Regions from separate parts of the Homo sapiens genome. Here region 2 is linked to region 1. Evidence: fine-mapped expression QTL. A gene starts in region 1. The other region holds a variant in brackets. All regions are shown on one strand. Distances are between the middles of the regions.

Region 1 (13,661 bases):
TTTTCTCTAGGCCAAAGTTATACTTTCGTGTGGTCTTGAGGGGAAGCGATCTTATTCTTTCTCTTCTTATTTTTTTAAATCACATAATTAGTACATTAAAATATCCTTTAGAGAGAGTTAGGTAATACACAAGGATATAGAGTAGGTTTGCCAGAGGAAATATAGAATGCTTGGTTAAATGTGAGTTTCAAATAAACAACAAATAATTGCTTAGTATAAGTTTGTTCATGTTATTATTATACATGGGACATACTTATACTTTAAAAGTTGTGTCCAGGCGCGGTGGCTCACGCCTGTAATCCCAGCACTTTGGCAGGCTGAGAAGGGTGGATCACGAGGTCAAGAGATTGAGACCATCCTGGCCAACACGGTGAAACCCCGTCTCCACTAAAAATACAAAAATTAGCTGGGTGTCGTGGCCTGTGCCTGTAGTCCCAGCTACTTGGGAGGCTGAGGCAGGAGAATCGCTTGAACCCAGGAGGCAGAGGTTGCAGTGAGCCAAGATCATGCCATTGCACTCCAGCCTGGCGACAGAGCGAGACTGTCTCAAAAAAAAAAAAAAAAAAAGTATAAGCTGTTTATTTGAAATCCACATTTAACCAGGCATCCTGTACTTTTATTTGTGAAGTCTAGCAACCTAAACAAGGACTAAAACACAAAAGCCTTCCTTCACCTCTCCACTCCCCTCCTTTCCAATGGTAACCACTATTAACAGTCTGGCACGTACACTTCATTTAAAAATTTGAATTAACTACATATTAGCAAATATATAAATACACAAACACACATATTCCATATAAAGAGAATCATACTACATAGAGTATCACACTATAATCGTACATTGTTCTGCAACTTTTCATTTATCAAATATCTTCAGATTGCTCCATGTCATGACATATCTACCATATTCCTTTTTATTTTTTTTTGAGTTCCCTTTTTTTTTTTTTTTGAGACGGAGTCTCGCTCTGTCGCCCAGGCTGGAGTACAGTGGCACGATCTCAACTCACTGTAAGCTCCGCCTCCCAGGTTCACGCCATTCTCCTGCCTCAGCCTCCCGAGTAGCTGGGACTACAGGCACCCGCCACCATGCCCGGCTTATTTTTTGTATTTTTAGTAGAGACGGGGTTTCACCGTGTTAGCCAGGATGGTCTCGATCTCCTGACCTTGTAATCCACCCGCCCCGGCCCCATATTACTTTTGATGGCTACATGGTATAATAATCAGCATAAACTGTTTGGGGCCTTTTTAGGGGAGGGGCTGTAAAAAGCAAAGTAGCGTCCTCATACTTACAACTTTGGGCGTGGGCATATTATGGTACTTTTCTTCTCTTTAAATTCCTCTGTGCTTACTTTACGATGGAAAAGATTAAGGTCTGGAGATTGTTTTCTGTATTATTACCAAGATTACTTTCCACTCTAGTTTTCACTTAGATGTCCTCTGAATTCCATTCCCTTTTCCCGTGGTACTCTGTATCTGTCATGTCTACTTCAGATCAGCAGAGAATGCAATTCAAGCATATGAACTATTTTTTCAAGGGATGGAGAGGCTCTCAGGATACAGACCCTGAGCTGATTAGGCCAGTTACAGGTCACAGGTTTCCATTACCCAACTGGTTGGGTACAAATTAAACATTAATCCTTCTCTTCCAGGCCTTTCCTGGTTTGCTTCTTTGCTAATCTGCAGGTGCATCAGAGTGTTGCCCATTGACTATCATAATAGCTAACACTTACTGAGTGTTGTGTTTTTTTTGAGACGGAGTTTTGCTCTTATAGCCTGGGCTGGAGTGCAGTGTGCGGTCTTGGCTCACTGCAACGTCCGCCTCCTGGATTCAAGCAGTTCTCCTGCCTCAGCCTTCCAAGTAGCTGGGATTACAGGTGCCCGCCACCAAGCCCAGCTAAATTTTTTTTTTTTTTTAATAGAGATGGGTTTTCACCATGTTGGCCAGGCTGGTCTCAAACTCCTGACCTCAGGTGATCCACCTGCCTTGGCCTCCCAAAGTGTGTCCCAGCCACTTTCTAAGTGCTCTACATTTACTTCATTTCATACTCAGAACGTTTCTATGATGTAGACACTATTACTATCCCAATTTACAGATGTGGAAACTGAGGACAGAAAAGTTAAATAACTTGCCCCAAAACACACAGCTAAGTAGTGGCAGAACCAAGACTTGAATCCAGACAGTCTAGCTCATGAGTCCATGTTCTTCAGTATCAAATTATGTGAAAAGCGCAGGCTTTCTGGTTATTAACCTTACCTCCATCCCTAGGCACAGGCCAGGCTGATCTCTCTCTCTCCTATTCCCACCTCTCCCCACCTTCTTCTCTTTCTGAAAATAGCTTTAAAAGCCCATACACTGGTTAACCAAAAGGAGTCCCAAAGAGCCAAACAATCTTTCCTTGGTTTTGTTTCATCCGCTTTTCAGAAGCTCAAAAATTATAGAAAAGCAGAATTTTTTTTCTAAAAAACAAGATGTTTGACTGTAGAGATTTTTGAGTCCTACTTTGATTCATTCAACAAGTGAACACTGAGCTCCCGCTCTCTGCCAGAGGCACACTGGGTGTTGGAGACAACCACAAAGCCAACAGCAGGGCTCCTACCACATGGGCTTGCAAGAATTCCCTTACAAGTGACCACTACCCAAAACCAATCACGTCATGAAGATAAGAAGCACTTGCCAGGCCAGTTCCTTGGTTTGGAGGAATAGGGTTTTTTTGTTGTTTTTTTTTTTCCCCATAATTATCAGGGTTTTTTTTGTTTTTGTTTTTGTTTTTTTGAGACAGGGTCTTTCTCTGTCACCTAGGCTGGAGTGCAGTGGTGCCATCACGGCTCATTGCAGCCTTGACCTCCAGGCTCAGGTCCCCACCTCAGCCTCCCAAATAGCTGGGACTACAGGCATGCGCCACCACACCTGGATACTTTTTGTATTTTTTCTAGAGACAGAGTGTCCCTGTGTTGCCCAGGCTGGTCTTGAACTCCTGAGCTCAAGTGATCCTCCCACCTAGGCTTCTCAAAGTGCTGGGATTACAGGTGAGAGCCACTGTGCCCCTGGAGGAATAGTTTTTAAGAATTTAAGCACAGCAGAAATCCTGTCTCTGAAAAACCCTTTAGAACAAATAAATTTTATACTACCTTCAAATGTTACTGATACGCTTTGGCTTTGTGCTCCCACCCAAATCTCATCTCGAATTGTAATCCCACCTGGTGGAGGTAATTGGATCAGGGGGGCGGTTCCCCCATGCTGTTCTTGTGATAGTCAGTGAGTTCTCACGAGAGCTGATGATTTAAAAGTGGCAATTTCCCCTCCTTTCTGTCTCTCTCCTACTGCCGTGTAAGATCTGTCTAGCTTCCTCCTCGCCTCCTGCCATGATTGTAAGTTTCCTGAGGCCTCCCCATCCATGAGGAACTGTGAGTCAACTAAACCTATTTTCTTTATAAATTACCCAGTCTCAGGCAGTTCTTCTATAGCAGTGGACTAATAGTTACTAAGCTTTCACATCAAATCGGAATTACAAAAGTGACAATCCCCAAATCCCGAATAAGGCATGGCTAAAAATTTGTTTTGAAATGCAGAAAATACTATTTTTCATGAAAATGTTCAAAGTTCCTAGGTCAAGCCATGAATATTGATTTAACCAAGTCAATTGCTGAGCTTAGAGTAGAGGAAACGCTTCCCCCTTTCCTGGGCAAGGCACTGGCGAGAATAAATTAATAAATGCTTAATCATGGGATATGGCCCTTTCCACTCCTCTAACAACCCAAGGACCACACTGTGACACCCAATTTGGACAGCCCAAAATTAGCCAGAGTGCACTAAAGTCTGAAATAAAATTACTCACCACTCTCAATCAAAACCCCCATTCACAGAATGACTTATCCTTTGGTTATATGAAGAAAACAATTTAATTAATAAGCACTTTAGTAATCTCAGATAATTTATATACTTTTTAGTGGCTGCTTGCTGTCCTAGTTGAATCTCCATGCCATTTTTTGCAGTGTTAATTAAGTGAAATAAAAAGTTCTAGTAGAGTCAGAGATGGTATTTGGGGGCAAAGGAAAGAAAGGGGATAAAAATGATTAGTTGCTCCCTCTGATCAGAGACGTATCAAATATGTGGTCAGATATGGTTAGACACATATCACAGCCCATGGCTCATTAAATCATCACAATCCATTTGTTTCACGTGAGAAAATAGGTCTGGAGAGTTTAAGTAAATTGCCCGGGGTCGCACAGCTTTAAGGAAGGAAGCAGAACTTTAAACCAGGAATTTTCAATGCTCCCACCAGGGTGCTCCTGGGCGTGAGCGACAATAAACTGCAGCCTCTAACCTGATCCTTTTTTTTCCTCATCCCTGCTTCTGAACCCAGGTTTTCTAAAGGCACTAAATTTACTTTTTCTATTTTTTCCTTAATGCCTCTCATGGCAGTTAATAGCCAGGTCTTTGGTGGCAACTGGGGGAAACATGAAAAGGAAGGCGTTTCAATGATTGTATGGGTAGGTTGTTTATACCTGTGGCTTATAAGCAAATATTTTCAGCACAGGCTTTGAAAGAAATCATAATGACTGTAGGTGGGACATGCCGATGAAAAATATTTTTAGGCTGGGCGTGGTGGCTCACACCTGTAATCCCAGCACTTTAGGAGGCTGAGGTAGGTGGATCACTTGAGGTCAGGAGTTTGAGACCAGCCCTGACCAATATGGTGAAACCCCGTCTCTACTAAAAATACAAAAATTAGCCGGGTGTGGTGGTGCCCACCTGTAATTCCAGCTACTTGGGAGGTTAAGGCATGAGAATCGCTTGAACCCAGGAGGTGGAGGCTGCAGTGAGCCGAGATAGCGCCACTGCACTAAAAAAAAAAAAAAAAAGAAAAACTTTTTTTTTCTTCTTTTGAGATGAAGTCTTGCTTTGTCACCAGGCTGGAGTGCAGTAGCACAATCTCGGCTCACTGCAACCTCCACCACCCAGGTTTAAGTGATTCTCCTGCCTCAGCCTCCTGAATAGCTGGGATTACAGGCATGCGCCACCATGCCCAGCTAATTTTTGTATTTTTAGTAGAGATGGGTTTCACCATGTCGGCCAGGATGGTCACTGTCTCTTGACCTTGTGATCCACCCACCCAGAGTGCTGGGATTACAGGCGTGAGCCACCGTGCCCGGCAAAAAACATTTTTAAATACAAAAAAAGGTTGAAAAACTCATAGGAGGCATTACTGATTTTTCTAGGCTGTTGTAGCAGGACGAGCCGCAGACAAAACTCCTTAGACACCGGATTGAAGAAGGCAGACTTGCGTCTCAAAAGCCGAGCTCACCGCGTGAGCAATTCCCGTCCCTTTTAAGGGCTTACGACTCTAAGGGGGTCTGCGTGAGAGGGTCGTGATCGATTGAGCAAGCCAGGGGTACCTGACTGGGGGCTGCATGCACCGGTAATCAGAACAGAACACAACAGGACAGGGATTTTCACACTGCTTTTCTATAAAATGTCTGGAATCTATAGATAACATAACTGGTTAGGTCAGGGGTCGATCTTTAACTACCAGGCCCATGGCGTAGTGCCGGGCTGTCTGCCTGTGGATTTCGTTTCTGCCTTTTAGTTTTTACTTCTTTCTTTGGAGGCAGAAATTGGGCATAAGGCAATATGAGGGGTGGTCTCCTCTCTTACTGTAACTAAAAATTTATATAATTTTCTTCTTTAGAATTCTATGAAAGAAAAAAATCCCATTTTCCCAGGGAGAAACTGAACCATTCTGACCTCTGGTTATGGCTGTCATCCAAACAGTTTATATAACCTGTCTGGGAAATTGAAGATTGTTCATATCTAACTCTGCAGTTACAAAAGGACCATGTCTCATGGAATTATCCACGCTCAGATCTTCCGCATGGCTCAAAACCATTTTTGGGATATGGTAATGTCAAGATAACCCCTTATTCTGTCAAGTATTTAAAAAAATTTTTTTTAAATTTAAATTTATTTATTTATTTATTTATTTTTATTTATTTTAGAGACAGGGTCTCACTATGTTGCTCAGGCTGGTCTCAAACTCCTGGCCTCAAGCGATCCTCCCACTTTGGACTCCTAGGATTACAGGTGTGAGCCACCATGCCGGCCTCTGTCAAGTCTTATTACTTTAAATTATTTACCTCTGTTTGTTTATATATACTTACATACTCTGATGGTTTAAAAGAATATGCAGTGAAAATTAAGTCTCCTTCCCATCCTCTGCACCCTGGGCACCCAGGATCCTTTCTTAACAACCACTGTTACCAGTTTATTGTTAACATAGGTTTTAATGCACTAGAAATGTAGTATCAGAGCACCATCAAAATAGTAACAGAGTGTTGTATATCTCCCCTGTAAGAGTCACAGCCCACACCTCTACAACAAACACAGGGTAACAAGAGAAAAGCAAAACAGCTGGGCACAGTGGCTCATGTCTGTAATCCCAGCACTTTGGGAGGCTGAAGTGGGAGGATTGCTTGAGGCCAGTAGTTCGAGGCTGCAAGTCAGCTATAATTGCACTACTCCACTCTAGCCTGGGTGACAGAGCGAGACTCCACCTCTAAAAAATAAAAAATACATAAAAAAGCCAAACAAATTTATTTGATTATAGTTTTATGTGACACGGGAGCTTTCAGAATGAAGACCGACAGATACAAGGAAAACAATCCATTTCTATGCTTAGGTCCAATGGAACATGGACAGCCATGTAGAAATATGATTGGACCAAAAGGGTAAGATCTGTTGCTAATAGAGTGAGTGGGGAAACTCGGCAAGGCCTGTGTTCAGATTTTTCTTGGCCTCCCCATGCAGCATTTCTTCCTCCGGGTATGGGGCAGGACCCCTCTGGAATGAGGGTCTTAATTTCTTTATGGTCAGCTGTTACACAGAAAGGCAGAGGGAAAGGTTAGAGTATATTTTTATTTTTTTGAGATGGGGTCTCACTCTGTCGCCCAGGCTGGAGTGCAGTGGCGCAATCTCGGCTCACTGCAACTTCCGCCTCCCAGATTCAAGTGATTCTCCTGCCTCAGCCTCCCAAGTAGCTGGGATTACAGGTGCCCGCCAGCAGCCTGGCCAACATGGTGAAACCCCATCTCTACCAAAAACACAAAAAAATTAGCCGGGCATGGTGGTGTTCAACAGAAAGCTGAGTTTTGTTTTTTTCCCTGAGGAATTGAAATTTGCTCTCTGTTTTTTAAGATAGAGTTTCGCTCTGCCACCCACGCTGGAGTGCAGTGGCGCAATCTTGGCTCACTGCAACCTCCGCCTCCTGGGTTCAAGCTATTCTCCTGCCTCAGCCTCCTGACTAGCTGGGATTACAGGCACGTGCCACCATGCTCAGCTAATTTTTTTGTATTTTTAGTAGAGACAGGGTTTCACCATGCTGGCCAGGCTGGTCTGGCCAACATGTAACCATGAGCCAAGTTACATATCTTACGTATCGGAAGAACCAAACAGACAGAATGACACACCAAAAGGAAAACCTCAAACCTCCTCTCCAGCAGAATTTGTCTACGCCCCAACCACTGAGCAGAGAGTATTAACTCTCAGTTTCCCTTTGCCAGCTTTATTTCACACCTCATTTTCTGTCTAGTTACACCATGGTGCTAAGAGAGCATGATGTACATTTTCCTTTGCTGCAATCAAGCTGCAATTGTCATTCTTTATTTATGCAATTACTGAGTTAAAGTCTATCTCCCCAGCCAAACCGCAAGAGTGGGGACCTTGTCTGTCCTGTTTAATGAGGTCATCGGATTAATAGAGTTGTCAAATGTATTAATTAATGCCTGATCCTAATTGCCCATGGATTCTGGGATAAAAGTCCATCCTAGTTGGTAGGAGACCTGATCTCTGAGAAGACACTGAGTTGGTCTTCTCTATTTTGTTCCTAAATGGTTATTGGGTAGCTGGTGTACTAGGCAACCACTGAGCTTAGTGGAGCATTTCTGAGACAACCAGGCCTCAAAGAGAATCTGATCAAGGAAGAAGGAAGTAGAAGAGGCAAGTATTTGAATTTCCTTCTTCAGAAGGGAAGAAGTGGGAGCCACACCCCCTCTTGCCTGCTCTTTCCTCTCCAGCCTTCTCCAGGTATCAGGCAGTTCAAAGATTAGGCAGTTCAAAGATCGCTCCAGGATCGCTGAAGTGTATCATACCATCAGCTGACCTTTTACGTTAACTGGGGCAAAGCCTGAACGGATAACCAGAGGCCAACTGCCATAGTTTATTTATTACAGTTTTTCCCAAATGCTGGATGGCCACACGGCCCTCTATGATGCATGCGCTTGCAAGTCAGACGGTCCCAAGCTAGGCGACTTTCCCCCTTGGTCCCTCGCATTGCAAGTGGCCCGCTAGATCCGGGAGGTATGTAGCGTGGGCCTGGGGCCTGCTCGCAGCCCAGGGCACAGTTCAACCCACCTTCCAACTCGGCGAAGCCAAGCACCACGTCCGAGGCTCTCCCCTGCCTGTCTTTGACCTCTAGGGCTGTGATCGTGCAGCCCCAGGAGATGATGTCCACTCTCAAGAGGTCTGACTGCAGCTGGAACTTCTCCACTGTCCCTCCTCCCGAGGGCAGCTCTCCAAACACGGCCCTGGTCACCGAAGCCATAGGGAAAGTTTGGCGTGTGCAGCCACTGCCCGCTCTTCAAACTCCAGCGCTCGCTAAGCTAGAGGCGACCCAAGTTTACAGGAGAAGGGGCGTGACTCGGCTCAGACTCCTCCCTTTCCCTGCCTGGATTTAGGGAGTGACCGTTCCTGCAAAAAATAGCCCCTGGGGCCTTTCTAAATCAATCATTTGCCTGAGGGTAACAAGAGGGGCAAACTTTGCAGCCACACTTGTACTTTTTTTCCTTGGCTCGTCCTGGTTGCATTGCATGTTGGGAATGGTAGTTTTTGGGAGGTGAAATTGCATTTTGGGGCTTGTAGTCTTTCTAAACTCGAATCCTGGGTTGACGGGGTTCTACCCCCATCTCCCCACACCTCAACATGTAATGAGCTGGTCATTAATGTCGGTGGCTATCAGACGAAGAATGGGAAAATACAGATAGCAGACTTACAGTGAGACCGATCTTGGGAAAAAATTAGATTTTAACTCTTTGATACAGGGGGTAAGAAGTACAGCAGTAGTTGGCCGGCTCGGTGGCTCACGCCTGTAATCCCAGCACTTTGGGAGACCGAGGCAGGCGGATCACGAGGTCAGGAGATTGAGACCTTCCTGGCTAACACGGTGAAACCCCGCCTCTACTAAAAATACAAAAAAAAAAAAAAAAAAAAAAAAAAAAAAAAATTAGCTGGGAGTGGTGGTGGGGGCCTGTAGTCCCAGCTACTCGGGAGGCTGAGGCAGGAGAATGGCGTGAACCCGTGAGGCGGAGCTTGCAGTGAGCCGAGATCACGCCACTGCACTCCAGCCTGAGTGACAGAGCGAGACTCCGTCTCAAAACAACAACAACAACAACAACAAAGTACAGTAGTAGCTTAGAAATGAGGTAAATCATCTCAGGCTTCTCTGCACACAGACTTACTGAAGATTCACTCTTTTTGTCCCACGGATGAAGTCCTGGACATGGTTCTGTTAGAGCCACTGCCCAGAAGGCTCTCCTGACGGCCAAAGCTGTGCCAGCCTCGAGGAGCTTGGACCAGACAGGGTCAGGTAGATGGATTAGGCCCTCGGTGTGCGGAGGTGATTAGAGACAGCCTCAGACTTATTTTACTTCAAGGGACTGGAAAGGGACCTCTGGTGTCTTCTGGCTCCTGAAGTCCACAGTTCCTTTAAGAAGGGATTCAGGGAACAAGTATTGATTGAGGTCCTTGTAAATGCCAGGTACTGAACCTTTGTTATCTCCTTTTCTACAAGTAGGATGGAGTCTTCAGGTATGTACAGTTGGAGAGGAAAGACACTAAGGTTATTAAATAATTGTCTTGCTTGATTGTGTCTCAGAATTTGCTGAGGACATTTAAAATGCATATTCCCAGTCCCCACCTCTGGAATTTCTAATTCTGGAAGTCTAGGGTGAAACTCAGGAATCTGCATTTTTCATGTTCCCAAGTTATTCTTCTGCAGATTATCTGGGACCAGATTTAGAGAAATATTGCTCTAAGGCTTGATGAGTAATCTGAATTTTTTTCCCCAAAAAAATAGGCTCTGATGGCAGAAGGATTAAGATAAAGCTATTAAGGGCCTTAATGAGATAACATACAGGCACCTATGTACTTCCTTGCTAAGTCTGGCAACTTTAGAGGAGTACTGAGCCTAGGAAGTGGGAGGATGCTGGGAGCCTAAAGACAAGTTTTACTCAAGCCATCTGCATAATCATCTATCTTTTCTTGATACTGCTCTTGGCTTGGTTCCTGGGTACTTCAGAGGGTATCCAACTAGACTGGGGTGAGTGCAGAAATGAAATGCATCTTTGATTAGGAAATTATGAGAATTGGGATTATGTGCCTGGAATCAGATGCTAATAAAACATAATAACTATCTCTCAGCTTCTTCTGTCTGTAATTTAAGGTATATTTAGCATTCTTGCCATAAAGCCTCAATTCTCCATCATGAAGCAGAAGAATTCTGATAGCAAAGGAAAAATAAAAAAGCTTGCAACAGGCTTCAGTGAAGCTCAACGTATAATAATAAAAAGACCCAAACAAGTCAAATTATAGACTGCATCACACTCATACAATAACCGACAGGCACTCCTATGTGCTGCTTCATCAGAAATTCTCATAAACTCTCAGTTTCATCAGCCACTTAACTTTGTGGTGATTCACACGCAAGCCCTTTGGCAATGCTGTGTTAGCAAGGATGTCTTAGAAAAGTGAGCAGGAAGACCACTTTTTTTTTTCTCAACCTCCAGTTCTCAGTGTTCTGCCAAGCACATGCTGTTACAGAAGGAAATAAATGTATTTGCCTGCCCAATGCTAAATGTCTCTACGGAAGCTCTTTTTACTCCATTTGGTAGAAAATGAATGTACCATGATGTCTCCCTAAAATGTAAAGAGGCCTGGGCGCGGTGGCTCATGCCTGTAATCCCAGCACTTTGGGAGGCAGAAGCGGGTGGATCACCTGAGGTCAGGAGTTCGAGACCAGCTTGATCAATATGGTGAAACGCCATCTCTACTAAAAATAAAAATAAAAAAAAACTAGCCAGGCATGGTGGTATGTGCCTGTAGTCCCAGCTACTCTGGAGGCTGAGACAGGAGAGTTGCTTGAACCAGGGAGGCGGAAGTTGCAGTGAGCTGACGTTGCACCACTGCCTCCAGCCTGGGTGACAGAGTGAGACTCTGTCTCAAAAAAAAAAATGTAAGGAGTACACTTCTTGATTTCATTTTCCTTTGAAGGGTTTAACTAACATATTGTCGCAAATAGCATTACCTTGTGCTTGAATCAACTGTCAGGCACAAACCTTGATTTTTCTCACCCTAATATCCTATTTTTATCCCACAGTGAAACTCTAAAGGAATATCTGTGCACTTAAAAACAAACAAACAAAACCCCTAAATCTAGGGGCAATTCTCCATCTGCAGGGAAGTCAGATGCAAGGTAGTAATCTAGAAAATGAAGCACTGTCAAATTTCAGGAGGTATTTATTTTTATTTTGGGGTAAGGGCCTGAGGATGAGATTATAAGGTAAAGGGAAAAGGGATTATGGCATTTATGTAAAAGGAAAATTACTGGCCAGGCGCGGTGGCTCATGCCTGTAATCCCAGCACTTTGGGAGGCCGAGGCAGGCGGATCACAAGGTCAGAAGATTGAGACCATCTTGGCTAACATGGTGAAACCCCGTCTCTACTAAAAATACAAAAAATTAGCTGGGCATGGTGGCGGGCACCTGTAGTCCCAGCTACTCGGGAGGCTGAGGCAGGAGAATGGTGTGAACCTGGGAGGCGGAGCTTCCAGTGAGCCAAGATCACACCACTGCATTCCAGCCTGGGCAACAGAGAGAGACTCTGTCTCAAAAAAAAAAAAGGAGAATTACTTGAAGTAGATAGCATTTCCTCTAACTAGAAGGGGAGGTGTCAGGGTGGCCAGGTGAAGAATAAGGTCTGGTTTTTTTGTGTGTTTTTTGTTTGTTTGTTTTTTGAGAGGGAGTCTCACTCTGTTGCCCAGGCTGGAGTGCAGTGGCGTGATCTCGGCCCACTGCAACCTCCGCCTCCCGGGTTCAAGCAATTCTCTTGTCTCAGCCTCCTGGGTAGCTGGGACTAACAGGTGCATGCCACCATGCCCTGCTAATTTTTGTATTTTTAGTAGAGACAGGGTTTCACCATATTGGTCAGGCTGGTCTCGAACTCCTGACCTCAGGTAATCCACCCACCTCGGCCTCCCAAAGTGTTGGGATTACAGGCGTGAGCCATTGTGCCCAGCCAAGGTCTGTCTCTTATCAGATAGAGGTAAGTCCCCAAAACTGAGTGCTTGGGAAGCCAGGCGTGAGGAAATCTGAGCTCTTGGAGGCTGCCACCACCTCCTCATTCAACATAGAAATGGCAAGGTGTGTTGTTCCTGGGAGGGGTCAGACCCTGCTTTCATAAAATCACTCTAGGCCGGACGCAGTGGCTCATGCCTGTAATCCCAGCACTTTGGGAGGCCAAGGCAGGAGGATCACTTGAGCCCAGGAGTTTGAGACCAGCCTGGGCAACATAGCGAGACCTCATCTCTGCTAAAAGTAAAAAAAATTAGGCTGGGCACGGTGGCTCATGCCTGTAAGCCCAGCACTTTGGGAGGCTGATGCGGGCGGATCGTGAAGTCAGGAGTTCGAGACCAGCCTGACCAACATGGTAAAACCCTGTCTCTACTAAAAATACAAAAATTAGCCGGGCATGGTGGCAGTCACCTGTAATCCCAGCTACTCGGGAGGCTGAGGCAGGAGAATCGCTTGAACCTAGGAGGCGGAGGTTGCAGTGAGTGGAGATCGCGCCATTGTACTCCAGCCTGGGCAACAAGAATGAAACTCCGTCTCAAAAAAAAATTAGCTGGGTTTAGTAGTGGGCTTCTCTGGTCCCAACTACTTGGGAGGCTGAGGCTGGAGAACTGCTTGAGCCTGGGAGGTTGAAGTTGTAGTGAGCCATGATCACACCACTGCACTCCAGCTGAGGTGACAGAGCAAGACCCTGTTTCAAAAAATAAAATAAAAATAAAAACAACACAAAGTTTTAAGCTATTGACAAGCTGCTATGCAGAGAAAATTCTCTGAGTTATAATAACAAAACTGAGTCACAGTTTGTCTATAAAAAGACCTGGAAAAGATTCTCTCCAGTCACGTTGGTCCATTACCACACTCCTGTTCTCTTTGTCAGTTCTCTGAACTCCAACATTGTTTATTGTCAGTTCTTCTTAATGGGCACTCAGTAGCCACTGTCTCAAATCATTCCTTATGTTTCCATGAGTATATTTTTGTTATTGTTGCTTACTCAACTATCGGCTTCCTGACTCAATAGTTTGACTTACGTATATATAGATATATATTTTTTTGAGAGTCTCACTCTGTGCCCTGGCTGGAGTGCAGTGGCATGATCTTGGTTCACTGCAACCTCCACCTCCCAGGTTCAAGTGATTCTCCTGCCTCAGCCACTCAAGTAGCTGGGACTACAGGCATGTGCCACCATGCCCAGCTAATTTTTGTATTTTTAGTAGAGATGGGGTTTCACCATGTTGGCCAGGCCGGTCTCGTACTCCTGACCTGAG
Region 2 (16,403 bases), 34 kb before region 1:
CAACATCAAAGCTTGTCTATGCTGCAGGTTTTTTTCCCTTTCCTCTGCTGGTGCTTTGGGTTTGCGGCTTTATTCTGTTGCTGGCTTTTTGTCTTATGTTTTTTTTTTTTTTCCTTTCCACCGAGCATTTTCTGATTTTACCTTGACTTGCAACGGGGGAGGGTATTGCTTCTGGATGTTAGATGACATCCGAAGCATAAAATGCTAAACCAAGCTGCAGGTCGTTTTCAGGTGAAAAGGCAATTTTACGCTTCATGGTTGGGACCACGTAAGGCATTTTCATGGTGGGGTATTTTTCATCTTAGATCCATCAGGATGACATCCAGGGATTTGCTGTCTAGTAGAAAGTTCACCTTTCAGTTACCCACTGTCTGTCTGCAGCCTCCTAGTCCTGCTGCTCTCCTGCACAGGCACAAGGGCATTCCTGCTAGACCTGCTCCCCTCCTGGGACTGCCAGGCCCCTGATGTTGCCATATTCCCCTGGTTTTCAGGGCCCCTTGCCACGCGTCTTCCCTGTCCCCCACAACCCTCACTGCCTACCTGTCTAGGCCCACTGTCTAGGACCTGAGACCCTTAGTAACACTCCTTGATCTGCCTTACACCCTGTCCTCCTGCTCCTCCTCTCTGATAAAACCCCAACTTCAGGTCATCCCACCATTTGCCTTCTCTGCTCCTGACTCCGCCCTGCCGAGAGAGCTGGAGAAAGCCCACAGAAGCACCGGCAGAGGCCACCACAGATTCACGGTCTCAAGCCTTCCCTGGATTCCTCTGCTCTCTGACAACCATTTTACTTGTCCTAAATCAGCTCCTCTCCTTCAAAAAACAAACAAACAAACAAAAAAAACTGTTATTTGACCCCACTTCCCTGCCTCACAGAGGAGCCTTCTCTTTGTCACAGCTTGTTGACAGCACTTTCTTTTTTTTTTTTTTTTTTCTTGAGACAGAGTCTCGCTCTATCACCCAGGCTGGAGTGCAATGGCATGATCTTGCTCACTGCCAGCTCCGCCTACCCGGGTTCATGCCATTCTTCCTGAGTAGCTGGGACTACAGGCGCCCGCCACCATACCTGGCTAATTTTTCATATTTTTAGTAGAGGTGGGGTTTCACCATGTTAGCTGGGATGGTCTCGCTCTCCTGACCTCATGATCCGCCCGCCTCGGCCTCCCAAAGTGCTGGGATTACAGGCTTGAGCCACTGTGCCCAGGCGACAGCACTTTCAATACCAGTCCTTTCTGTTAACTCACTGAGGTAGCTTCTAGGATGCTGGGACAGATTCCATGGCCCTGTGCTAAAGCAAATGAATCAGAATCTCTGAGGTGGGGCCCAGGATTCTTTTTTATTTATTTTTATTATTTTTATTTTTTTAGAGACAGGGTCTTGCTCTGTCACCCAGCTGGAGTGCAGTGGCGTGATCACAGCTCACTGTAGCCCCTAGCTCTCTGGGCTCAAGAGATACTCTTGCCTCGGTCTCCCAAGCAACTGGTACTACAGGTGCAAGCCACCATGCCAGGCTTTTTTATTTTATTTTATTTTATTTTATTTTATTTTATTTTAATTTTGATACAGTTTCTCACTCTGTTGCCCATGCTGGAGTGCAATGGCATGACCTCGGCTCACTGCAACCTCCGTCTCCCAGCTTCAGGTGATTCTCCTGCCTTAGCCTACCGAGCAGCTTGGATTACAGGTGTGTGCTACCACGCCTCGCTAATTTTTTATTTTTAGTAGAGACAGGGTTTCACCATTTTGGCCAGGCTGGTCTTGAACTCCTGACCTCAAGTGATCCACCCACCTCGGCCTCCCAGAGTGCTGGGATTATAGGCATGAGCCAGCACACCCGGCTGCTAATTTTTATATTTTTTTTGTAGAGATGGGGTCTTGCTGTGTCCTGAACTCCTGGCCTCAAGTGATCCTTCCGACTCAGCTACCCAAAGGACTGGGATTATAGGCGTGAGGCACTGTGCCTGGCAGGGTTCTGTATTCAAGAAAGCTGCCTAGTTGGGAACCAGTTATTGGCCTATATTCCTGAATCTTTCCTCACTTTTTGTCACTTCTCAAACGGTTACAGTCTGGCTTCTGCCCTGACCACTCTGTTACATTCTTAAACGGGGTCAGGACAACAACCACCACAGCCATGCAGGTTCCCAGGTCTCCTGCCACTTGACTCCCTGGAGTATTGACACTGTTGGTCACTCCAAGACTTCTAGACACCTCTTCTCCTTCTTTGCCTTCTACCCCTGGCCATCTCCCTTGGCACTTTAAGGTAGACCCTTTTTGGACCTTAAATATTGGTGGTTGTTTCCTAGAGTTTCCCAGGGTTTGGTCCTCAGACCACTGCTCTCCTCAGTCTATGATTCCTCTCTGGTAAATCCACGTGGCTTAATCTACAAAGTACACGCTGATGTATGCCTCCAGCTGTCATTTCTCTAACGTCACACTCATGCATCCAGCTGCTGGAAGTGTAAGGTCAGGTGTACAGGGGAGATGTACACCCCACAGGCACCCTAACCTCAAATATTTCAAGATCAAATCCATAGTTCTCCCAGCCCCCCATGCCAGCTCCCCCTCCTCCCCTACTCACAACTCACTGAACATCCCCATCTCTACTGCCCAGCAGCTGCTCTAGAGTCCCGGGGTCATCACACAGCCTTCCTGCTTCCTCATCTATGCATTCAATTCAGGCCTCCTGAGTTTTACCTCCTAAATATGATTAAACTGCCTTCTTCCACCTGACCCTTAATTTGGGTCTCATCTCTTGCTTGGACTATTAAAATAGCGACCCCCCCGCCCCCCTTTTTTTTTTAAAGAGATGGAGTCTCACTATGTTGCCGAGACTGGATTTGAACTCCTAGATTCAAGTGTTCCTCCTGCCTCTGCCTCCTGAGTAGCTGGGACTACAGGTACACACCATTGTGCCCAGCTCCAACAACAGCATCTAAACTGGTCTCTGTCTCCAGTCAAGTCCCACCAGAACAGTTGCTGGGGTGATATTTCTTTGTTTCTGAAACAGAATCTCCCTCTGTCACCCAGGCTGGATCACAATTCACTGCAAACTCCACCTCCCTGGCTCAAGGAATCCTTGAGCCTCAGCCTCCCGAGTAGCTGAGACTACAGGTGTGGGCCACCGCACCTGGCTAATTTTTTTTTTTTTTTTTTTGTAGAGATGGGGTCTCGATATGTTGCCCAGGCTGGTCTCGAACTCCTGGGCTCAAGCAATCCACCTGCCTCGACCTCCCAAAGTGCTGGGATTACAGGTGTGAGCCACCACGCCCAACCTGGGGTGAGATTTCTAAAATGCCAATCTTGACAGGTCAGTTCCCAGCTTAGAATGCTTGAAAGCCCTCCATGATCTAAAGTTAAAATTCCAGCTGGGTGTGGTGGCTCACGCCTGTAATCCCAGCACTTTGGGAGGCAGAGGTGGGTGGATCACGAGGTCAGGAGTTCAAGACCAGCCTGGCCAACATCGTGAAACCTCGTCTCTCCTAAAAATACAAAAATTAGCTGGGCAGGGTGGCGGGCACGTGTAATCCCAGCTACTTGGGAGGTAAAGCAGGAGAATCGCTTGAACCTGGGAGGCGGAGGTTGCAGTGAGCCAAAATCGTGTCACTGCACTCCAGCTTGGGCAACAGAGTGAGACTTTGTCTCAAAAAAAAATCAGCCTGATGTGGTGGTGCACGCCTGTAATCCCTGCTACTCGGGAGGCTGAGGTGGGAGAATAGCTTGAACCCAGAGCGGGAAGTTGGACCACTGAACCCGGAGGGGGAGGTTGCGCCACTGCACTCCAGCCTGGGCGACAGCACAAGACTCCGTCAAAAATAAAAAATAAAAAAAATCCCAGCTCATCGGCATGGCCCAGAAAGACAATCATGACTGTACCCAACTGTAGGGCTGGGCAAATGAGGTGCCTAGGGTGCAAAATTTAAGAAGACACACACTCTCAGGTGCTGACCCTGCACATGCACGACCCTGGGAGTGGATGCTGCCTTAAATTTTGCACCCTAGCCCTTGCTCTGCCCAACTGTCTCTTTGGCTTATTGGCTTAACAGTCATCACCACTCCTGCATTCTGTGCTTTGGTACTCTCACTCTCCTTGTGGCTAGATCCTCACAGACACTGAGAGGCTTCTCACAGCTCAGGACAATCTTGAGAATCCTCTTTCTACCCTGGCTTCTACACTCCTTCAGTCCCACAGGCATTATCTCTACAACTGCTCTGACCACATTAGGTTCTCCCCATCCCTCTGAGCTTCTCAAGGGCAGAGACAGTGTTCCATCCTCTTTATCTCTCAGGCAGCATGTAGCAATCAGTAGGTGCTCTATAAATGTTAGCTGAACTGAATACAAATCTGCTCTGGGAACTTACTTGAGTTAACATCAGGTCCGTTGCCCAAGGCCCACAGTCCCACTAAGCCCCTTCAGAATGTAGTGACCACTAAGGATGGCTATGCACCAGGAATGAACTAGAGGCAGCCCTTGTCCAGACCTGGGCTGGAGGAAGGGTAGATGTGAACCATCAACTCTCCAAGGGTGGTGGTCAGAGCTCTAGCAAATAATTCCCCTTCTGACAAATTCACTGACTGTTAGCCTGCAATTTTCACAGGAATTACACATCGCCTGGCCAAGTGCTAAATTTTGAGCTTTCTTCCTGCCAGATTTCTACCATGCTGGTTCATGTTTGCCAATCTTGTAACAGTAATGTGTTTTCCAGTAGGGAGCATGAGTAGCTTCAGGAGTTATTCTAGAGGCTCATAAAAATGATCTTGTGACCATTTTACAGGAAGGATTCAGTAATGTGCCGTCTTAAAGAATACCACTGCTACCAAGAGAGGTCCTTGGAGTTTTTGCATTAAACCTTGAATACTATCTAGCAGGGACCTATCATACAATAAACAGCTCTAGGGTAAACACATTTCATAGGGTCCAATGTCATGAGTTTAACTTTTTTACTGTTGTCCAAGTACTTTCTTATCTGTAGCCTTACTTTTTTTTTTTTTAATGGAGACAGAGTCTTGCCGTGTCACCAAAGCTAAGTGCAGTGCCCAATCATAGCTCAATTTGCCTTGAACCCCTGGGTTCAAGCAATCCTCTGCCTCAGCCTCATAAGTAGCTGGGACTACAGGTGAATGCCACTGGGCCTGGCTAATTTTTTGATTCTATTTTTTTGTAGTAAAAATGGGGTCTCTCTGTATTTCTCAGGTTCTTGAACTCCTGGACCCAATCAATCCTCCCGCCTTAGCCTCTCAAAGTTCTGGGATTAAAGGCATGAACCACTGTGCCCAGCCTCAAAAAAAATATTTTTTAAATTAGCTGAGCATGATGGGGGCATGCCTGTGATCCTAGCTATGCAGGAGGCTGAGGTGGGATGACCGCGTGAGCCCAGGAGGCCAAGGCTGCAGTGAGCTATAATTGCACCACTGCACTCCAGCCTGGATAACAGAGTGAGACCCTGTCTCTAAAAAAAAAAATAATAAAATAATAAAAAGAGAATACATAGTAGGGCAACCATAGACTATCATTACTTTGAAAGAGGAAAAAAGATAAGAAAACCCCCTTTGTGGGCCAAGGTGATGCAGCAAGTTCACAAAGGATTTTACATAGAATTTATTTTATTTTATTTTATTTTATTTATTTATTTATTTATTCATTTATTTTTTGAGACAGCGTTTCTCCCTGTCTCCCAGGTTGGAGCACAGTGGCACGATCTTGGCTTACTGCAACCTCTGCCTCCTGGGTTCAAAGCAATTCTTGTGCCTCAGCCTCCTGAGTAGCCGGGACTATAGGCACATGCCACCACACCCAGCTGATTGTTTTTGTATTTTCACAGAGAGGGGGTTTCAACATGTTGCCCAGGCTGGTCTCGAACTCCTGATCTCAGGCAATCTGCCCACCTCAGCCTCCCAAAGTGCTGGGATTACAAGCGTGAGCCACCACGCCCAGCCTTGGATTTTATATAGAATTTAAAGAGCTCATGATCCCCTTGAAGTTCTTTCATCATCTTCCCAGACATACAAGAACCCTAGTTAAGAATATCTGGGTTAGAGATTCTGTGCGGTCTTTGAATCAGGGTGTAAGAAATGGACAGGACCTCAGAGTTCAATGAATATAATCCTCATCAAGTCAGATTTTACAGATTCAGTCAATGAGGCCCAGAGAATTTTCATGGCTGACTCATAGCATAGCTAGTGGATGGCAGAACGGAGACCTATATCTTGGTTTTCTGAATCCCAGTTCTCACACAGTGTTGGGCTAATATACCGTGTTTAAGGCTGGGTGCGGTGGCTCACGCTTGTAATCCCAGCATTTTGAGAGGCCAAGGTGGGTGGATCACCTGAGGTCGGGAATTAGAGACCAGCCTGACCAACATGAAGAAACCTGTCTCTACTAAAAATACAAAATTAGCCAGGCATGGTGGTGCATACCTGTAATCCCACCTACTTGGGAGGCTGAGGCAGGAGAATCGCTTGAACCTGGGAGGCAGAGGTTGCGGTGAGCTGAGATCGCACCATTGCAATCCAGCCTGGGCAACAAGAGCAAAACTCTGTCTCAAAAAAAAAAAAAAAAAAAAAAAAAAAAAAAATATATATATATATATATATATATATATATATATATATAAAATCCCACATATCATCCCACCTCAGCCTCCCAGCCTCCTGAGTAGCTAGGATCACAGGCACACCCCACCATGCCCAGCTAATTAAAAAAAAAATTACACATATTATATATATATATATATAAAAAGTATATATATATAAATAAAGTGTATATATATATATAGTGTTTAAAACAAATGTAAAGGAGAGAGGAGTGTGGAGAGACTGGCTGGGGGCAAAATAAGCAATAGTTAATTCCTAGGATGTATAGGTTGGCTATTACTCAGCTTCATTTTTGTGTTCAGTATAGATTAGTTTTCTAGCTTCAACCCGAAGAGACCAAGCCTGAAGCTCCCTTCTAGCTCCCTACTTTGGATCTGTGACTAAATCCTGATGGATTATCTGAGCAAGCTCTGTGGAGAGGCAGATAGCAGAGACTGGCCACATCATGAATTCTAAATGGCTGATGTCATTACAAAAACCATAAGCAAGAAAGAATCTACAGTTTCCAGAAAGTGGGGGGAAAAGTTTCTAAGGAGAAAGTATGACTCTTGAAGAAGGAGGGTAAGGGTCATGTAGCAAAGAAGAGGTTATTGGGTGGTCTCTGTAGGCTGGGGGTGGGAAAGGGATGCACAGCAGGGTGGGGTGTGAGGGAGGCATGCTCGGAGATCATTTTTGTTTTTGTTTTTTGACCAGTGAAATGTTCAATTTTTTTTTTAAGTTTTAAAATTTTTAAATTTTTATTTTTTTGATCAGTGAAATGAGAGATGGTTTTGGGGAGGCCTGAGAGCCGTCTAAGAGGTTTATTAACCTGGAGATTATCAAAGTAAGATTTGCATTTTAGATAGATGCTTTTACATGGAAGATAGATCTTAAGATTTTTTTTTTTCCAGTTAGGTGTTAGAGTGCAGTTGTCCAGATTATGAATCATTCATTCATTGATCCCACTTTATGAAGCCCATAATATAAGCCAGGCACTAATCTAGACAAGAAAAGATAGTCTAAAGCAGCACAGTGAAAATGGAGATGGAGTTATATAACCAACAATACATACTGAGGAGACAGATTTGAGAAATGCTTAGGAGTTAAAAATCAGTAGGACCTGATGACTAATTAAGGCAGTGGGGAGTGAAATGGAAAGAGTAAGGATACTGACAGATGCTTGAAACAAATATGTCCAATATTTTAGAATTATATAATAAATTTAAAGGAATTTTCTGTCAGGAGCTCCAGAAAG[A/G]TTAACACCCAAATGCTAATACATAAAGATCAAAACAGCCTTCGTTTGCAACATCTTTGAATGAGGAGACTACTTTGGACTTTGCTATTTCTCCAAGGCAGAGATAGAGACCTGCCCCAGGGAGGTAATTATATCATCTGCCGAATTGTAGGTTTAACCGACAGAGGTTGAAATAAAATACAAAAGTCTTGCTGGGCCTCTCTCCACAGCCTCATGGCAAGCGTTTCCTACCAGAATTCTAATTTTGTCAAAATGGGGTTGCTTTGATGTAATTTTAGAATAAGCTTTTAAAAACTGAGAGCAGCAAGAACAGCAAGTGAACACAGATGGGCTGGGGGACAGAGTGAATTGGGTAAATTTTATAAGAATAAAAAAGAAGAGGGGATTTTACTAATGCTACTTTCAAAGGCAAAAGACCTAGTCAAAGCACTCATTTTTGCTTTCTTAATTCCTTATCTACTACTACAAATAAAGAGCAGCAAAATTATAAGGAAAAAAAAAACTGTGTGCTGTAAATGCCTTTAAAGACACATCCTTAGTAGTGCACTGTATTGTATACATCATAATGTCTTGCTGGGCAGGCTGCCCAGCTCACCTCCTAATTCTACAGTTCTGTGAGGTGAAAGGTGAAATGTAATATTTACAATCCTGAGAATGAATTAATCCCTGGCAAAATAGAAGGATTTGATTTTCTCATCTGCTCACATCTAGCTGGTGTAATACTTAAGCAGGGTACCAGGGATCTGTTTCTACTTGTTGCCACAGGGCAGGGAACTAGAATCAGGTCCTGAAGCTAAATGCCTGACATGTCTCAGACAAATAAAAACTGACAGAATTCATCACCACTAGACCAGCCTTATAAGAAATGCTCAAGGGAGTCCCACATCTGGAAGTGAAATGATAATTACTATCAAGAAAACACAAAAAAGTAGAAAACTCACTGGTAGAGCACATACACAAAGGAGAAAGAGAAAAGAATCAAATTTTACCACTACAGAAAACCACCAATCACAAGGATGAACAATAAGAGGGGAAGAAAGGAACAAAGGATATATTTAAAAAAACAGAAAATAATTAACAAAATGACAGAAGTCCTCACCTATCAATAATAATCTTGAATGTAAACTTATTAAACTTCCCCCCTTAAAATATATAGACTGGCTGAATGGATTAAAAAACATGGCCCAACTACGGTTGCCTACAAGAAACTCACTTCATCTGTAACGACACACATAGACTGAAAGGGTGGAAAAAGATATTCCATGCAAACAGAAACCAAAAGCAAGCAGGGTAGCTGTACTTGTATCAGATGAAACAGACGTCAAGTAAAAAACGATTAAAAAAAAGAAAAAGGTTATTATATAATGATAAAGGGATCAATTCAGTAAGAGGAGGTAACAATTCTAAATATATATGCACCCAACACTGGAGCGCCCAGATACATAATATAAAGCAAATATTATTAGATCTAAAGGGAGACATAGACACCAATACAATAGCTGGGGAATTCAACACCCCATTCTCTGCACTGAACAGATCATCTAGACAGAAAATCAACAACAAAACACTAGATTTAAACTGCACTTTAGGCTGAGCGCGGTGGTTCACATCTGTTATCCTAGTACGTTGGGAGGCTGAGGTGGGCGGATCACTTGAGGCCAGGAGTTTAAAACCAGCCTGGTCAACATGGTAAAACCCTGTCTCTACTAAAAATACAAAAATTAGCTGGGTGTGGTGGCGGGCACCTGTAATCCCAGCTACTTGGCAGGCTGAGGCACGAGAATTGCTTGAACCTGGGAAGTGGAGGTTGCAGTGAGTCAAGATCATGCTACTGCACTCCCAGCCTGGGCAACAGAGTGAGACTCTCTCAAAAAAACAAAAAACCCTGCATTTTAGACTAACAAAGAGACATTTACAGAACATTTCATCCAACAGATTCAGAAAACACATTATTTCATCAGCACAAGAAACATTTTCCAGAATAGACCATATGTTAGCCCACAAAACAAGTCTCAACAAATTTAAAATAATTGAAATTATATCGAGTATCTTTCCTGACCACAGTGGAATAAAACTAGAACTCAACAGCGAGGTGAACTTTTGAAATTGTACAAATACACAGAAATTAAACAATATGCTCCTGAATGATCAGTGAAGAAAATTTTAAATATTCTTCTCTTTTCTTTTTTAAGATGGTTCTTGCTATGTTGTCCAGGCTGGTCTTGAACTCCTGACCTCAGGTGATCAGTCCACCTCGGCCTCCCAAAGTGCTGGGTTTACAGGCATGAGCCACCGCACACAGCCTAAAGGTTGTTTAATGTTAATAAAAGTACAGCTAGATAGGGGGAATAAGTGCTAGTGCTCTAAAGCACTATAGGGTGACTATAATTAACAACAACTTATTGTATATTTTCAAATAGCTAGAACAGCAGATTTTGAATGTCCCAACACAAAAAAATGATAAATGTTTGAGGTGATGGATATGCTAATTACCCTGATTTGATCCTTATACATTGTAAACATGTATCAAAATATCCCAGTGTACCCTGTAAATATGTATTAGGTATCAATAAAATATGTATTAGATATCAAGTATTAGGTATCAATTAAAAATAATAACAGCTGGGGCCAGGTACGGTGGCTCATGCCTGTAACCCCAGCACTTTGAGAGGCCGAGGTGGGCAGATCACCTAAAGTTAGGAGTTCGAAACCAGCCTGGCCAACATGGTGAAACCCCGTCTCTACTAAAAATACAAAAATTAGCTGGGCATGGTGGTGGGCGTTTGTAATCCCAGCTACTCGGGAGGCTGAGGCAGGAGAATTGCTTGAACCCAGGAGGCGGAGGTTGCAGTGAGCCGAGGATGTGCCATTGCACGCCAGCCTAGGCAACAAGAGCAAAACTCTGTCTCAAAATAATAATAATAATAACAGCTGGACACAGTGGCTCATGCCTGTAATCCCAGCACTTTAGGAGGCCGAGGTGGGAGGATCACTTGAGAGCTCAGGAGTTCAAGATCAGCCTGGGCAACATAGTGAGACCCCATCTCAAAAACAAACAATATATAAACAAATGTCTGACAAAGCAGCACAGGGATCTGGCACTGCAGTGTTCTCTGTCTCTGGACATCCATTATCTACACCCCTGTCCTTTCTGGGAAACAGCTTCAGGGAGTTCTACTTCTGGGAAATTACAGGGACAGCCCTGACAACAATAAACATAGAAAACACATGCCAGAGGGACTCATATGCCCAACAACAGAGTGTGCTCCCATCCTATGGAGCAGCAAATGCTTTATGGGTGTCATTTTTTTCCTTTTTTTTTTTTTAAGTAGCTAAGAATAATTGCTCTGAAGACGCAGAGCTAAATTAACTGCTAACATCCAAACACAGCCTGACAGTGTACCTGCAAACTTTGCTCCTGGTCCATGGGTAAAAGGAGCTCTCAGCCTTGCAGAAACCTTCTGTTGGTGCCACCTGCCATGGGACAGGAAAGAAGCACCTGTGAGCAAGGGCTATGCACTCAATACACCACTGCTGACTCCTAAGTGCCGGAATTTCATCTACAGAGGTAGCTTTAGAAGTTAGGTGATGAATTCTATTCATTTATTTAAAATATATATATAATCCCAGCACTTTGAAAGGCTGAGGTGAGCAGATCACTTGAGGTCAGGAGTTTGAGACCAGCCTGGGCAATATGGTGAAACCCCATCTCTACTAAAAATACAAAAATTAGCTGGCCGTGGTGGTGCGCACCTGTAGTCCCAGCTAATTGGGAGGCTGAAGCAAGAGGATCATTTGAACCCGGAAGGCGGAGGCTGCAGTGGGCCGAGACTGCACCACTGTACTTCCAGCCTGGTGATGGAGTGAGACTCTGTCTAAAAAAAAAAAACCCCAAAACCCAAAATTGCCAACAGGAAGAAGGCAGGAGCAAAACAGGTGCTCATGGCTGCCAAAGATTTGTGGGTCCTGCCTGGGGTAGAGGTCTAAATGCCGGCTCTGCATTGAAGACGTAAGGGAATTTCTTTGTCTTGCTCTTGCTCTGGCTCCCTGTAACTGCATACCATGGTATCTCTTTTCTTTCTAGGTGATAATGCCCCATCCATAAGTGGGTTACTAACAAAATGGAGGACAGGACGTCACTCCTCCCCAAACACCTACAGGGGGAAGGTCCCCTTTTACTGAGCACTGTGGCCACAATTTTAACAGTTACTGCAAAATAAAAGTTGCTACATTCTCATGATGATGTGTTTTCCCATCACCTGAAAAATTATTTACCGAGTGTCTGTAGCCAGGGTGAAAAACACCCCTAAAGTTTAGATATGCATCAGTATTTCCCTCAAGAATAGCACACGTTAAAACTTTTATAAAGAGAAAACAAAAATAAGGAGTTGAAAAACATATAAGTATAAATTAATAGCCACAAAAGGGAGAAGTTAAAGAGAGACTATGAAAACATCTTTGTCTTGCAGAAAGATACAATCTGAGAAGCAACCCTGCAGGACTTGGCTGAAAGTCAACAGGCGGCTGATCAAATGAAGCAATAGAAGCTGTGTAATTTGTCACATCAAGCACCTGCGACAAACCCACGCACAATCCGAGGAATGTAGGTGATCTGACAAAAGGCCTTATGTTTAAAATTTACCCTAAGTTTCCCTAAATCCATCACAAATTTCCCCACATAAGCCACTTTTTCAGACACAGTTTAACTATCTTTTCTTGTGACACTAGGTGCATTTGAAGAGTTCTTGGGGGCCGGGTGCAGTGGCTCATGCCCATAATCCCAGCACTTTGGGAGGCCACAGCAGGTGGATCACTTGAGGTCAGGAGTTCGAGACCATCCTGGCCAACATGGTGAAACCCCCTCTCTACTAAAAATACAAAAATTAGCCGGGCGTGGTGGCATGTGCCTGTAATTCTAGTTACTCGGGAGGCTGAGGCGGGAGGATTGCTTGAACATGGGAGGCAGAGGTTACAGTGAGCTGAGATCGCGCCACTGCACTCCAGCCTGGTTGACAGAGCAAGACTCTGTCTCAAAAAAAAAAAAAAAAAAAAAAAAAAGCTTTCTTGGGGGTAGGTGCGGTGGCTCACGCCTGTAATCCTAGCACTTTGGGATGCTAAAGTGGAAGGATGGCTTGAGGCAGGGAGTTTGAGACCAGCCTGGGCAACATAGTGAGACATCATCTCTGCCAAAAAAGAAAAAAAAATCCATGTTGAGACATTTTCGTGTAAAAAAAGAAAAAATTACCTGGGTATGGTGATGTGCACCTGTAATCCTAGCTATTTGGAAGGCGGAGCCAGGAGGATTGCTTGAGCCCCAGAAGTTTGATGTTACAGTGAGCTATGATTGTGTCACTGTTTCAGCTTGGGCAACAGAAAGAGACCCTGTCTCAAAAAAAAAAAAAAAAAGAAAAGAAAAAGAAAAGCTGGACACAGTGGCTCATGCCTGTGATCCCAGCACTTTGGGAGGCTAAGGCAGGTGGATCACCTGAGGTCAGGAGTTCAAGACCAGCCTGACCAACATGGTGAAACCCCATCTCTACTAAAAATACAAAATTAGCCAGGTGTGGTGGCACATGCCTGTAATCCCAGCTACTTGGGAGGCCAAGGCAGGAGAATCGCTTGAACCCGGGAGGTGGAGGTTGCAGTGAGCTGAGATCACGCCATTGCACTCCAGCCTGGGCAACAAGAGCGAAACTCTGTCTCAAAAGAAAAAAAAAAATCTCTACACTTTTTTTACTGTTATAGTGACAATAATAGAGGCTTTTCTCTCCAGGAGCTCTAAGTGAAATTAATGAGAAATCTCATGACCCTAAGAAGAGAGATTTAAAAAACAAACACGCAGGCGGGGTGTGGTGGCTCACACCTGTAATCCCAGCACTTCGGGAGGCTAAGGCGGGTGGATCACTTGAGGTCAGGAGTTCAAGATCAGCCTGGTCAACATGGTGAAACCCCATTTCTACTAAAAATACAAAAATTATCCGGGTATGGTGGCATGCGCGCCTGTAGTCCCAGCTACTCAGGAGGCAGAGGCAGGAGAAGCACTTGAACCCGGGAGGTGGAGGTTGCTGCAGAGAGCTGAGATCGAGCCACTGCACTCCAGCCTGGGCAACAGAGTGAGACTCCGTCTCAAAAAACAAACAAGCAAACAAACAAGCAAACAAACAAAACCACACACACATAAACAAGGATTTGGGGTGGAAAGCAGAGGACTAGGATGGTAAGCAAAATAACTGATTTACGCAGTAAAAGTCATTCATATGCAAAAAGGCCAAAGCTGTTTTAGAGAAGTTTTCTACTGTTGATTTCTGAGGGTTTCAGCACAACCAAGCAGCCACCCCAGGAAAAGCCAGGTAGAGCAAAGGGTCTAAAACGAACTCATTATCCAGCATCTCCCCAGGATAAATGAAGTACCCACCATAAGGGACTGCTCCAGATAGCTGAACGCCACCCTGTAAATGGTACAGCTTTTCTTTAACTGTGTCTGTAAGTTTGCTTTCTTTTTTTGAAACTTTATTTATTTATTTATTTAATTTATTTATTTTGAGACTGGGCTGTGAGATTGGCTAATTTTTGTATTTTTGGTAGAGATGGGGTTTCACTGTGTTGCCAAGGCTGGTCTCAAAGTCTTGGGCTCAAAAATCCAACCGCCTCCACCTCCTGAAGTGCTGGGATTACAAGCATGAGACACTGCACCCGGCCTGTTTGTAAATTTTCTACCGAAGGTGATTTTTCTATCATTTTCAACAGAGATGACCAACATACATACTTAAAGAATGTGAACTTTCAACACAACTTGTTCATAACAAGATTCTGCATATGAGAAAACCAAGAACCAGAAAGACAAGGGATCTGTCAGGAACACCATATGCTGCAACAGAACAATGACACCTGAGGTGACTTTCCCTTGACTTTCCCTTTCTTTTTTTGTTTTTTTTTTTTTTTTGAGACGGAGTCTTGCTCTGTTGCCCAGGCTGGAGTGTAGTGGCCCGATCTTGGCTCACTGCAACCTCCACCTCCCGGGTTCACGCCATTCTCCTGCCTCAGCCTGCCGAGTAGCTGGGACTATAGGCGCCTGCCACCACGCCTGGCTAATTTTTTTGTATTTTTAGTAGAGACGGGGTTTTACCATGTTAGCCATGATGGTCTCGATCTCCTGACCTCGTGATCCATCCGCCTCGGCCTCCCAGAGTGCTGGGATTACAGGCTTGAGCCACTGCGCCCAGCCTGACTTTCCCTTTCTTGTCAGACTGACAAGGCCAGACACTTAAATTCATGCTCTTTAATTTCAAGAAAACCTCTCCCTCCTTCCCTTTTTCCTTTCCTTCCTTCCTCTTTCTCTCTCTCCCTTTCTTATATTTAATTTAAACAAACTTGGTTTCCTGTTTTCTTTGCAGAAAAGTAGAAATAAATTGAAGGGAGGAAGGAACAAGGAGGAGACAGTGAGAGGACTGGGGAGGCTCCCTGTACAAAAGGTGGCAAAAGAGCTGAGGATTGACAGCTGGCAAAAGTCTGTTCTTTGTTTTGGCTTACTTCTCATTTATTGACTATATGTTGCACTTGGGTATTTATATAGTAAAGAAATTAATTTACTTTTCTTTTCTTTCTTTCCTCACTCCTTTCTGCCTCTCCCCTACCTCCCAAATCTTCTTCTTTTTTTTTGAGACAGGGTCTTGCTCTTCACCCACATTGAAGTGCAGTGGCACAATCACAGCTCACTGCAGCCTTGACCTCCTGGGCTCAAGCAATTGTCTTACCTCAGCCTCCCAAATAGCTGGGACCACAGGCATGCACCAACACTCCTGGCTAATTCAAAAAAATGTTTTGTATTAACAGGGTCTCCCTATGTTGCCCAGGCTGCTCTTGAACTCCTGGGCTCAACCAATCTTTGGTCTCCCAAAGTGCTGGGATTAAAGGTGTGAGCCACTGTGCCTGGCACCAAACCTTCTTGACATCTAACCACATTGTAAGATCTGTAGAGTGCAGGTCTACTTAAGAGCCTGAGTTCTAATACCAGACTACCTTGGTGTGAATCCCGGCTTTCCCCAACTTGTTAACTGGGTCATCCTCTGTAAGGTACTTTAACTCCTTGTTCTATAGTTTTCACATCTGTTAAATAAGAAAAATGAACAGAACCTACCTTACAGGCTTGTGGTATGAATTATTTATAAAGTCCTCCCTGAAATACTAGCTATTATTATCATAAAGCTTCACCTTATCTCACAGATAATCAGTATCTTCTTTTTCTCAATTCAACAAAACCACAGTCGGTAGATAGTGCATATTTATTTTGAGAAGTCTTAATGGAGTATGGCTGGTCTAACAGGTTATTTTCTCTCTCTCTTTTTTTTTTTTTTTTGGAAGCAGAGTCTCGCTCTGTTTCCCAGGCTGGAGTAAAGTGGCGTGATCTGGGCTCACTGCAACCTCTGCCTTCTGGGTTCAAGCGATTCTCCTGCCTCAGCCTCCCAAGTAACTGGGATTACAGGCGCCTACCATCACACCCAGCTAATTTTTGAATTTTTAGTAGAGACAGGGTTTCACCATGTTAGCCAGGCTGGTCTCGAACTCCTGATCTCAAGT

Evidence for each region. PIP is the estimated chance that this variant, and not a neighbour inherited with it, causes the effect.
Region 2: its variant is fine-mapped to the expression of GALM in whole blood (INTERVAL, PIP above 0.99).

The regions. Positions count from the first base shown.
Region 1 is chr2:38,661,098-38,674,758 of GRCh38, reverse strand. GALM (galactose mutarotase) reads right to left here and starts at 8,645. Exons shown (of 7, transcript NM_138801.3): 1 at 8,408-8,645. The coding sequence starts at 8,597. RefSeq lists enhancers at 7,868-8,380, 8,381-8,893.
Region 2 is chr2:38,693,263-38,709,665 of GRCh38, reverse strand. The region is part of intron 4 of GALM (galactose mutarotase); the gene reads right to left. LOC124905993 (a long non-coding RNA gene) reads left to right here. Exons shown (of 3, transcript XR_007086292.1): 2 at 12,296-12,429. Among named protein-coding and RNA genes, the nearest start is that of GALM, 35 kb to the right of the region's middle. The variant A/G (reference allele first, on the strand shown) is at 7,827.